Regions from separate parts of the Homo sapiens genome. Here region 1 is linked to region 2. Evidence: fine-mapped expression QTL. A gene starts in region 2. The other region holds a variant in brackets. All regions are shown on one strand. Distances are from middle to middle. Region 1 holds the start of FAM95C (family with sequence similarity 95 member C). Region 2 holds the start of FAM201A (family with sequence similarity 201 member A).

Region 1 (4,387 bases), 75 kb after region 2:
ACGGCATTTCGGAGACCTTTGCAGCAGCCCTTGCTATCACAGGCCCTGGGCCCTAGGAGAGAAGCATGGTTTCCTGGGCCAGTCCTGTGACCCCGCTCTATGTGCAGCCTCAGGGCACTGCTGCCTGCGTCCCTGCAGCTCCAGCTCCAGCCATGGCTGAAAATGCACAGATGCAGCTTGGGTCACTGCTTCAGAGGGTGCAAGCTAGAAGCCTTGGTAACTTCCTCATAGTGTTAAGCCACTAGGTGGATGGATCATGAGACTAGAGGCTTGGGAGCCTTTTTGTAGACTTTGGAAGATGTATGGAAATGCCTGGGTGACCAGACAAAAGCATCCCAAAAATGCAGAGCCTCATAAGAAACTTCTACTAGGGCAGTGCAGAAGGAAAATATGGGGTTGGAGCCCCCACACTGGAGGCCACCGTCATGCAGACCCCAGATTCATAGACCCACCAACAGCTTGTACCATCAGTCAGGAAAAGCTGTAGGCACTCAACACCCGCCCAGTCCATGGGGGCAGCTGTGGGGCATAAACCCTGCAAAGCCACAGGTGCAGGGCTGCCCAAGGCCTTCAGAGCCCAGCCCTCATGTCCCTGTGCCCTGGATGTGGGACAACGTTTCAAAAAGGGTGATTTTGGAACTGTAGGATTGAATGACTGGCCTTCTGGGTTTGGAGTTTCATGGGGCCTGTAAGTCCTCTATGTGTTTTGCTCTTTCTGGCAAAATTTTTCCTTTCAGTTGAGAATGCTTACCCATTGCCTGCACAAGCATTGTAGCTTGGCAGCAGTTAACTTGCTTTATAGTTCAGAGGCTTATGTGCCTAAGGGACTGTATAGCCTTGTGTCAGATGAGACTTTAAGCTTTGGACATTTGTATAAATGCTGGAATGATACAAGATTTGGGGGGACTGTAGGGAAGGCATCATTGTATTTTGCAATGTGAGAAGGACATGAGATTTGGGAGCCAGGGACAGAATAATAAAGTTAAAGGTGGGGCCTGGTGGAGGGTGATTTAATCATGGTGGAGAGTGTGGGTTGGAAGGTGGGGGGTAGGGAGAATGAGGGGATTATGGTGGGGGTGAGGGGTGAAAAGTGGTGGTGGGAGGTGGATCCTTCACAAATGATTAAACACCATCTCCTTATTGCTGTGCTTATGCTAGTGAGTTCTCTTCGTGATTTTGGAGCTGTGAGATTGAATGGATACTGGCCTCCTGGGTTTTGGACTTGCATTGGGTGTGTGGTTCTATTTGTGGTTTTTTCCTGGGAAATTTCTTCCCTTTGAATTGAGAAAGCTTACCCAATGCCTGTACCATCATTGTACCCTGAAAGAAAAGAACATCCTTTTAAATTCAGGGACTCATAGGTGCAAGGGACTGTAGACTTGTCTCAGATGAGATGTTGAACTTTTTACATTTGAGTTAATGCTGGAATGAGTTAAGACTTTTGGAAACTTTTGACAAGGCATGAATGTATTTTGCTCTGTGAGAAGGACATGAGATTCTGGGGTACCAGGGTCAGAATAATATGGTTTGGCTGTGTTTCTTTACCAAAACTCCTGTGGAATGTACTCCTTAATGTTGGAGGTGGGGCCTGGTGGGAGGTGATGTAATCATGGCAGGAGGGGTTTGGGGTTGGAAGGAAAAGGGGTGGGTAGGGTGGGAAGTAGGTTGGCAGTAGGGTGGTGGGAGGGTGGTGGGTAGTAGGAAGGGGGAGTAGTCTGCTTCAGAGGCAGAGGCTCATGGGAAACCTCTGCTAGGGCAGTGCACCTGCAGCTTTGCAGGCTTCAGCCCCCATGTCTGCTCTCATGGGCTAGGCTGGTGTGGAGTGCCTGTAGCTTTTCCATACTGAGGATGTGAACTGTTGGTGGGCTTATGAATCTGGGGTCTGGAGGATGGTGACCTCCTGTGTCGGGGCTCCAAGCCCATGTTTCCCTTCTGCACTGCCATGGTAGAAGTTTCCCAAGAGGCTCTGCCTCTGCAGGAGGCTTCTGCCTGCAAACAGTGGGTGGTGGTGTGGGTGGTGTTTCCTTCACCAGTGGTTAATCTTCTTGATGCTGATCTCCTGATAGTGAGTTCTCATGAGATCTGGTTGTATAACAGGATGTGGCACCTCCTTTCTCTCTCTGTCTTGCTCCTACTCCTGCCATATGAAATATCTCATTGTCGCTTGTCCTTCTGGTATGGTTATGAGGGCCCTGATCAGTGTGGGCCTCATCAGTGGACCTAGTCAGCTGGGACTTGGTCAGTGAGGCCTATTTATTGGGGGGTGTGGTCAGCAGGGGTCT[G/A]CTTAGAGAGGGTCTCATTAGGGGGATCTAGTAGTGGGGTCTTGGTGAGTGGGGACCTAGTGGCAGCCACTTGTTTGGTGTCTGGTCAGTGTAAAACTAGGCTGCAGGACTTTGTCAATGGAGACCTGGTCAGCTGGGGCTTAGTGGTGGCCTTGTCAGCATGGGCCGGGTCACTGGTGACCAGCTCAAGGGGTGCTATTCATTGGAGGCCTGGTCACATGGGACCCAGTCAGCAGGGCCTGCTGGCCATGTCCTCATCAGTGAGGCCCTTGTCAGTGGGGCCCTGGTCAGCGCAGCCTGGTCAGTGGAACCTAATCAGTGGCGGCCTGTTCAGAGAGAGCGCATTCAGTGGTGGCTCTTGTAGCAGTGGTCTGTGGGGTGACCTGGTCAGCAGGGATCTGAGCAGTGGGTGCCTATTCAGTGGGGCCTACTCACTAGGGTCACAGTCAGGGGCATCTTGTCACCTATGGCCTGGTTAATAGGGGCCTGGTCAGTGGCAGCCTGTTCCCTGGAGGCCTGGTCAGTGGGGCCTCATCTATGGTGCCAGGCAATGGGGTCATGATCAGTGGAACCTGGTCAGTGAGGCCCTGGTCAGTAAGAACCTGGTCAGTGAGGCCCTGGTCAGTAAGGTCCTGGTCAGTGGGGTCCTGGACACTGTTGGCCTAGCAGCAAGGGCCTGGTTAGTGGGGCCTGGTCATGGGGTTCTAATCAGTGAGAGTGTGGTCAGGGAGGACCTGATGTGTGGGATATGGCCAGCAGGGACCTGGACCTGGTCAGCAGGGGCTGCTGAGCACTGCTGGGAGATGTCAGGTGCAATGCACGTTATTGAGGGCCCTGTGGACAGTTGGGATGGCCCAGTAGTGCCCAAAGACCCAGTCAAAACTGGACAAAGCAGGTGTTTCGATGGACCTGGGAGATCTTGCTCAGAGATTCCAACAGGACAAAGGGAAAGGAAGGGCCACAGTGGCCAGATAGATGGTCACAGTCTATGGGCTGCACAGGATGGAGGAAGCCAGGGAACAGGCAGGGTGGGCAGCAGGGTGCAGGGAGAGGCAGGTGCATGCTGGGAGGTCAGACCCTGTGAGGGCTGTGGGGGCATCAGGCGCAGTGGGCTCCAGGTGCACCCTCAATGCACTGGGCAGGTCTCAGGCCAGGCTCCCTGGACCCCGGCTGGGTGATGTGGTCACTCCCTGGGGGACTGCTGTCAGGCACCGGGCACCCACCATGGGCAGCACTGTCCCATCTCAGGACTGGACTTTCTCAGATCCTGCAGAGGGCACAGCCTCCAGCCCAGGAGGGGCAGCCCCATGGTGCAGCTGGAGCTCTCCATTGGCCTGGAGTGTCCCCTGCCAGCCCTGTACTCCCTCTTCTCCTGGGTCCCGCTTTTGCAGTGTCAGGAAGCAGAGGGGCTCCGTCCTCCCTTCCCTATGTGTCTCCTGGGCTGAAGCTTGCAGTGGACTGGGACAGGGATGGTGCTTCCCTCAGGCCCATTTAGGGAGGGGACTGGCTCCCAGCCTTGGCACAGGTCCTCAGCTCTGCCTTGGTTGCCTCAGAGTGAGCAGGATCAGTCAGTGCCCTGAAGGTAGAGCTAAGAGACTGTCCTTGCTGTGTGGGAGGCTGGTCTAGGGATGGAGGACTTAACGGGTCCTCCCAGTCTGTCAGGCCTGGACAGTACTGTCCTGTCTCAGACTGCAGAAATTCCAGTCCTGAGATAGGACGGTGCTGCCCAGGGTGGGTGGCCAGGGCCTGACAGCAGTCCCCCAGGGAGTGACCACATCACCCAGCCGGGGTCCAGGGAGCCTGGCCTGAGACCTGCCCAGTGCATTGAGGGTGCACCTGGAGCCCACTCCGCCTGATGCCCCCACAGCCCTCGCAGGGTCTGACCTCCCAGCATGCACCTGCCCCTCCCTGCACCCCAGATGTCCACCCTACCTGTTCCCTGACTTCCTCCATCCTGTCCAGCAGGATGGGCTGGACAGTGGGACAGCCTGTGTGCACATTTTGTGGCAAGTAGGAGTGACACACCATCCCTGGGAGGCACCATGGTTCCTGCCAAACCCAACCCCAGAACTCTGTCCCTGAGGTGGTTTTACCAAAACCCAAAA
Region 2 (4,387 bases):
ACCTCAATTTTATTTTTTGTGGTTAGATATTTGAAATTTACTTTTTGTTATTTAAATATACAGTACATTATTATTGACTATAGTCATCCTGCTGTGCAATAGATTTCAAAACGCATTTCTCCGGTTTAACTGAATCTTTGCATCTGTGAACAACTTCCCATTTTTCTCCCCAGCAACACAGCCTCTGGTAAGCATCATTATACTCTCTACTTTTATGAATTCAATTTTTAGACCTAAATTTAAATCCAAAAGCTGTAAAACTTCTGTAAAATAACAAAAGGGATATTTAGGTAACTTTGGGTTTGGCAATTACTTTGTAGATACAACAGTAAAGTACATAAAAGACAAATTTCTACCATGAAAGAAGATATTGGTATGAAGTCGTTACAATTAAAAACTTTTGCTCTGGGAAAGGAAATAAGAGAATGGAGAAACAAGCCACAGACGGAGAAAATATTTGCAAAACACCTGTCTGGCATCCAGACCATTAAAAACCACTTACAACTCAACAATAAGAAATCGAACAACCCAATTAGTAAATGGACGAAAGATCTAAAGAGGCTCCCATCAGAGATGGCATATAGAAGGGGAAAAGCTTATGAAAAGATGTTTGCCCTCCCAACGCTTTTCCCTCCCTGCGTCCCTCTCCCTCACACACCCTCCGCTGCAGCGGAGTGGGAGCGGGTCAGGGGCGCTAGGCGGTGACGGTGACGGTGACGTGCTGTCTCTCGGGCGAGGCGTGGGATTTAAGCGCATTATAAGCCGTGGGTCCCGGGGAATCCGAGAGGCTGAGCTTGGAGCCCAGACTGACCCGCCTCTCTCATGGTCCCGGCCCACTGCCCTGCAGAGCCCGCCTTACTCTTCCTCTCCACAGGTCTGCTGTGGCTCCACCAAGCCTGGTAGGCCCACAAGGAGCTGCATCCAGCAGGAGCCGCCGCCCGGGAACAAGCTACCCGCGGGCTCTGGGGACAACCGCCCGTCTGATGAGCTCGGCTGAGCGTGCACGCAATGTCGAAATCAAGGACGCCTGGATGCTTTTCATGGCAGAGTGACAAAAGTTTACCAACAAGAAGAGGAGCAGGGCTGCTGAAAGGTGCGGTGCCGCGGCGCCAGAATGCGGGATCCTGAGCCCTGCATGCGAGTCTTCGCGGGGCCGATCGCTGCGAGCCTCGCTTAGGTCCAGCCGCCTCCAGGGAGGGCAATATCCACGAGACGCGGGGAGTGAGGGCGGTGCTGGCCGCACCCCTGGTCCTGGGGCCGCGGGAGCCGTGCTAGCAGGCCGCCTTCCACTGCCGCCTGCGCCGGGTCGGGTTGCTGCAGCGGTGCCCGCTGCAGGAGCTCCGCGCCTGCTGCTTCTCCGACGTCAGGGCGCCGCCAGGATGACAGGTGCAGGAGGCTGCGGCTGTGGGCAGATGTGGTTTCCAGCCCCAGGTCCCGGCGGCCCCTGGCTTCCCAGCCCGCTGTCCTGTGGGCAAGAAGATGAAGAAAGTCACCCCATCAGCAGGTCAGCTGCCCCGCCTGGCAGCCCAGCCAGACAAGGCAACCGAAGTTCATCCTGTCTGAGTTGACTTTGTGCAGGCAGCGGGCCGGCGCCCAGGATGCTGGGGAGCCCTGCGCGCCGGAGGCCGACAAGCCGTGGGGCCCAGAGGCGCCACAGGGCGAGAAGGCACCCGCCTCCCAGCGCTTTCACCCCCCGGCCCGCCCGACCCGCTAGGTGTAGCAGTGGCTGCGGCCAAGCCAGGCATTCTGCCCGGCGGCGGCTGCACAGGGGCGAAAACTGAGAACCCCTGCTCAACCCCATCCGGAGTGACTGCCAAGTGCCCATGCCAGCGACCCCGATCCCCCTCCGGTGGAGGAATGGGCGGGAGGCACGGCCTGGGGGCCCTCAGGCTGGGCGCGCTGGCGATCCCGAGGCCGACCAGGCCATGCACCTCCAGCCCGCCTGGGCACCCAAGCTGCATCCGCCTTCTGTGTGCAGGCAGCAGCCTCCAGGCAACCCCCGAGCCCGCCAGCACTCCCCACATCTCAGAACCGGGGCCAGATGTCCCTGTGGCTGCGGCTGAGCTAGGTGGTCTGCCCTGCAGCGGGAACCGGCTCTCAGCCCCATTCCCCGTGGCTGCAGAGGGCCACTGGCTAGAGGTCCCGAGCTTCAGCAGACGAGGAGCCGAGCAGGGGCAGGGCCTGGCGGGCTCTCAGGCCAGGTGCACTCGCGATCCAGAGGCCGCCTAGGCCGTGCTCCACCACCTGGGCGCCCAAGCTGCAGGCGCCCTCTACCTGCTGGCGACAGCTGCCTGGCAACTCCCAAGATGGCTGGCGCTCCCAGCCTGGCAGAACCGGGGCTACATGTCGCCCTGGCTGCGGCCAAGCCAGGCGGTCTACCCGGCGGCGGCTGCACCGGGACAGGAACCGACCCCCCAGTCCCATCCCCGGTGGCTGCGGAGGGCCCCTGTCAGCGGCCCCGATCTCTCTTCGGAGGAGGAGCGGGTCGGGAGTCAGGGCCAGGCAGGCCCTCAGGCGGGAAGGGATGCACTCCTGGGATTCCGGGACGTCCCGCGGGAGCCCAGGAGAACCCGCAAGCCAGCGACGCGTGCGCCCGTGCTGCAGGTGCCCCCTGCCGGCCACGAGGGCTTGGGAGCGGCTTCCGGAGTCCCGGCTGGCGCTGAGTTGTAGGCGCGCGCCTAACTGGCATCGCGGGGACTCACTCGGTCTGAGAGTTCGGAGCGCTGAGGTTCAGGCGCGCGCCTAACGGCTTAGCTGGGCTCACTCGGTCTGAGAGGTCGGAGTCTGCGAGTGTCGCTGCTGAAGGCTGTGGTGGACCGGGCTGGATCGCGGATTCTGAGCTACATTGCGGGTTTGGGGGTGGATCTTGGATTTGGGGGTGGATCGCGGGTTGCGGGGGGGATCGCGGGTTGCGGGGGAGATCGCGGATTTGGGGCGGAGTGGGGGTGGAAAGGCCACGAGGAGCCGCCGCGGCTCAGGAGCGGGTGGTGGGCGTCTGAGAAGTCGCCACCATGAGGAAGCTCTTCAGCTTCGGGAGACGCCTGGGCCAGGCGCTCCTGAGCTCCATGGACCAAGAGTATGCGGGTCCGGGTTACGACATTCGGGACTGGGAACTGCGGAAGATCCACAGGGCTGCCATCAAGGGCGACGCCGCGGAGGTGGAGCGCTGCCTGACGCGCAGGTTCCGGGACTTGGACGCCCGCGACAGAAAAGACAGGTAGCTCGGGGACTCAGCCCGCGGTGGGAGGGGGCCGCAGGCCCGGCTTCCCTGCAGCCCGGCAGCCCCTGGGGCGGGGACCTTGGAGGGCGCCGGGCACCCTCGGAGCAGCGGAGCCAAATGGAGCCTCAGCTGCTTTCCGTCGCTGGCAATTCCCCGTCCGTCGCGCTTGGTGGAAAATTTGAGTGATTTAACTCACAAAGTTAGGCATATCCACGTTTAAAACATGGGGCCATATACATGATAGGGAGGTGCCTAATGAGAACTCATTCCCCTGTCAAAAATACCATGAGCCTTTTTCAGTAGGCGAAGAGTTCTCAGATAAAACCCTGTGTCGGTTTTACATCCGAATCCACCTAGGTAGACAGGTTCTTTACTGGAGCTTCTTAGAGGGACACTGGGAAGCGCGAGGTGGGTTCCTTGAATGGGAAGACTCAGTTTTCTCAAAATATGAACTGTTTCCATGTTTATCAGTTTTACATAAACTGAATGAAGATATCAAGGTTTTATCATTTTTGCATGACACTTGCTATCTATCTTACCATTGTGATGACATTTAAAAATGTTTATAATGGAGTGAAAAGACTTGCTCCTCTAGATATCAAAATGTGCTATTAATTCCCACAATTAATTATTTACTAACAGCTGAAAACACAGATAAATAAATGGAACAGAACAGGAAATCCAAAAACACTGAAATATATGTAAGATATATACATAGGGATGGATAATGGTAACGTTTCAGATGAGTAGGAAAAGATGAGTTATTAATAAAATGCCTGCTGTGTGAAGAAAACTAATGAAACTTTATGTCGCAAAAATGGGTTCCTGATGGAATTCAGACTGAAATTTTTACACATGCAAAATGAGAAAAAGTACCAGAAGAAAACGCAAAGACTTATTTATACAGGTACATTTTATGTTAACAAAGGCCTTCGTAAGAATGACCTCGCAAGCAGGCATTCTGAAAGTTGATTTAGCAAACTAAAAATTAAAATCCCCTGTGTATCAGAAAAAAATTAACAAAAGATAACACACTCGAAAAATATTTCCTATATATATTTTTACTAATATATAAAAATATATATTCAGATGAAAAGTGTATCTTCATCCTACAGGGAATTTATTCTTTATTATATATAATACATATTACTGATTATATGTATAAGA

Evidence for each region. PIP is the estimated chance that this variant, and not a neighbour inherited with it, causes the effect.
Region 1: its variant is the best candidate, but not a certain one, in a credible set for the expression of FAM201A in whole blood (INTERVAL, PIP 0.73).

Annotation. Positions count from the first base shown.
Region 1 is chr9:38,544,329-38,548,715 of GRCh38, reverse strand. It overlaps FAM95C (family with sequence similarity 95 member C), which reads left to right and starts at 3,344. Exons shown (of 3, transcript NR_047651.1): 1 at 3,344-3,400; 2 at 4,078-4,387. The variant G/A (reference allele first, on the strand shown) is at 2,283.
Region 2 is chr9:38,618,910-38,623,296 of GRCh38, reverse strand. FAM201A (family with sequence similarity 201 member A) reads right to left here and starts at 2,209. Exons shown (of 2, transcript NR_027294.1): 1 at 1,932-2,209; 2 at 13-1,465. ANKRD18A (ankyrin repeat domain 18A) reads left to right here and starts at 2,701. Exons shown (of 16, transcript NM_147195.4): 1 at 2,701-3,217. The coding sequence starts at 3,012. RefSeq lists enhancers at 1,074-1,283, 1,936-2,055.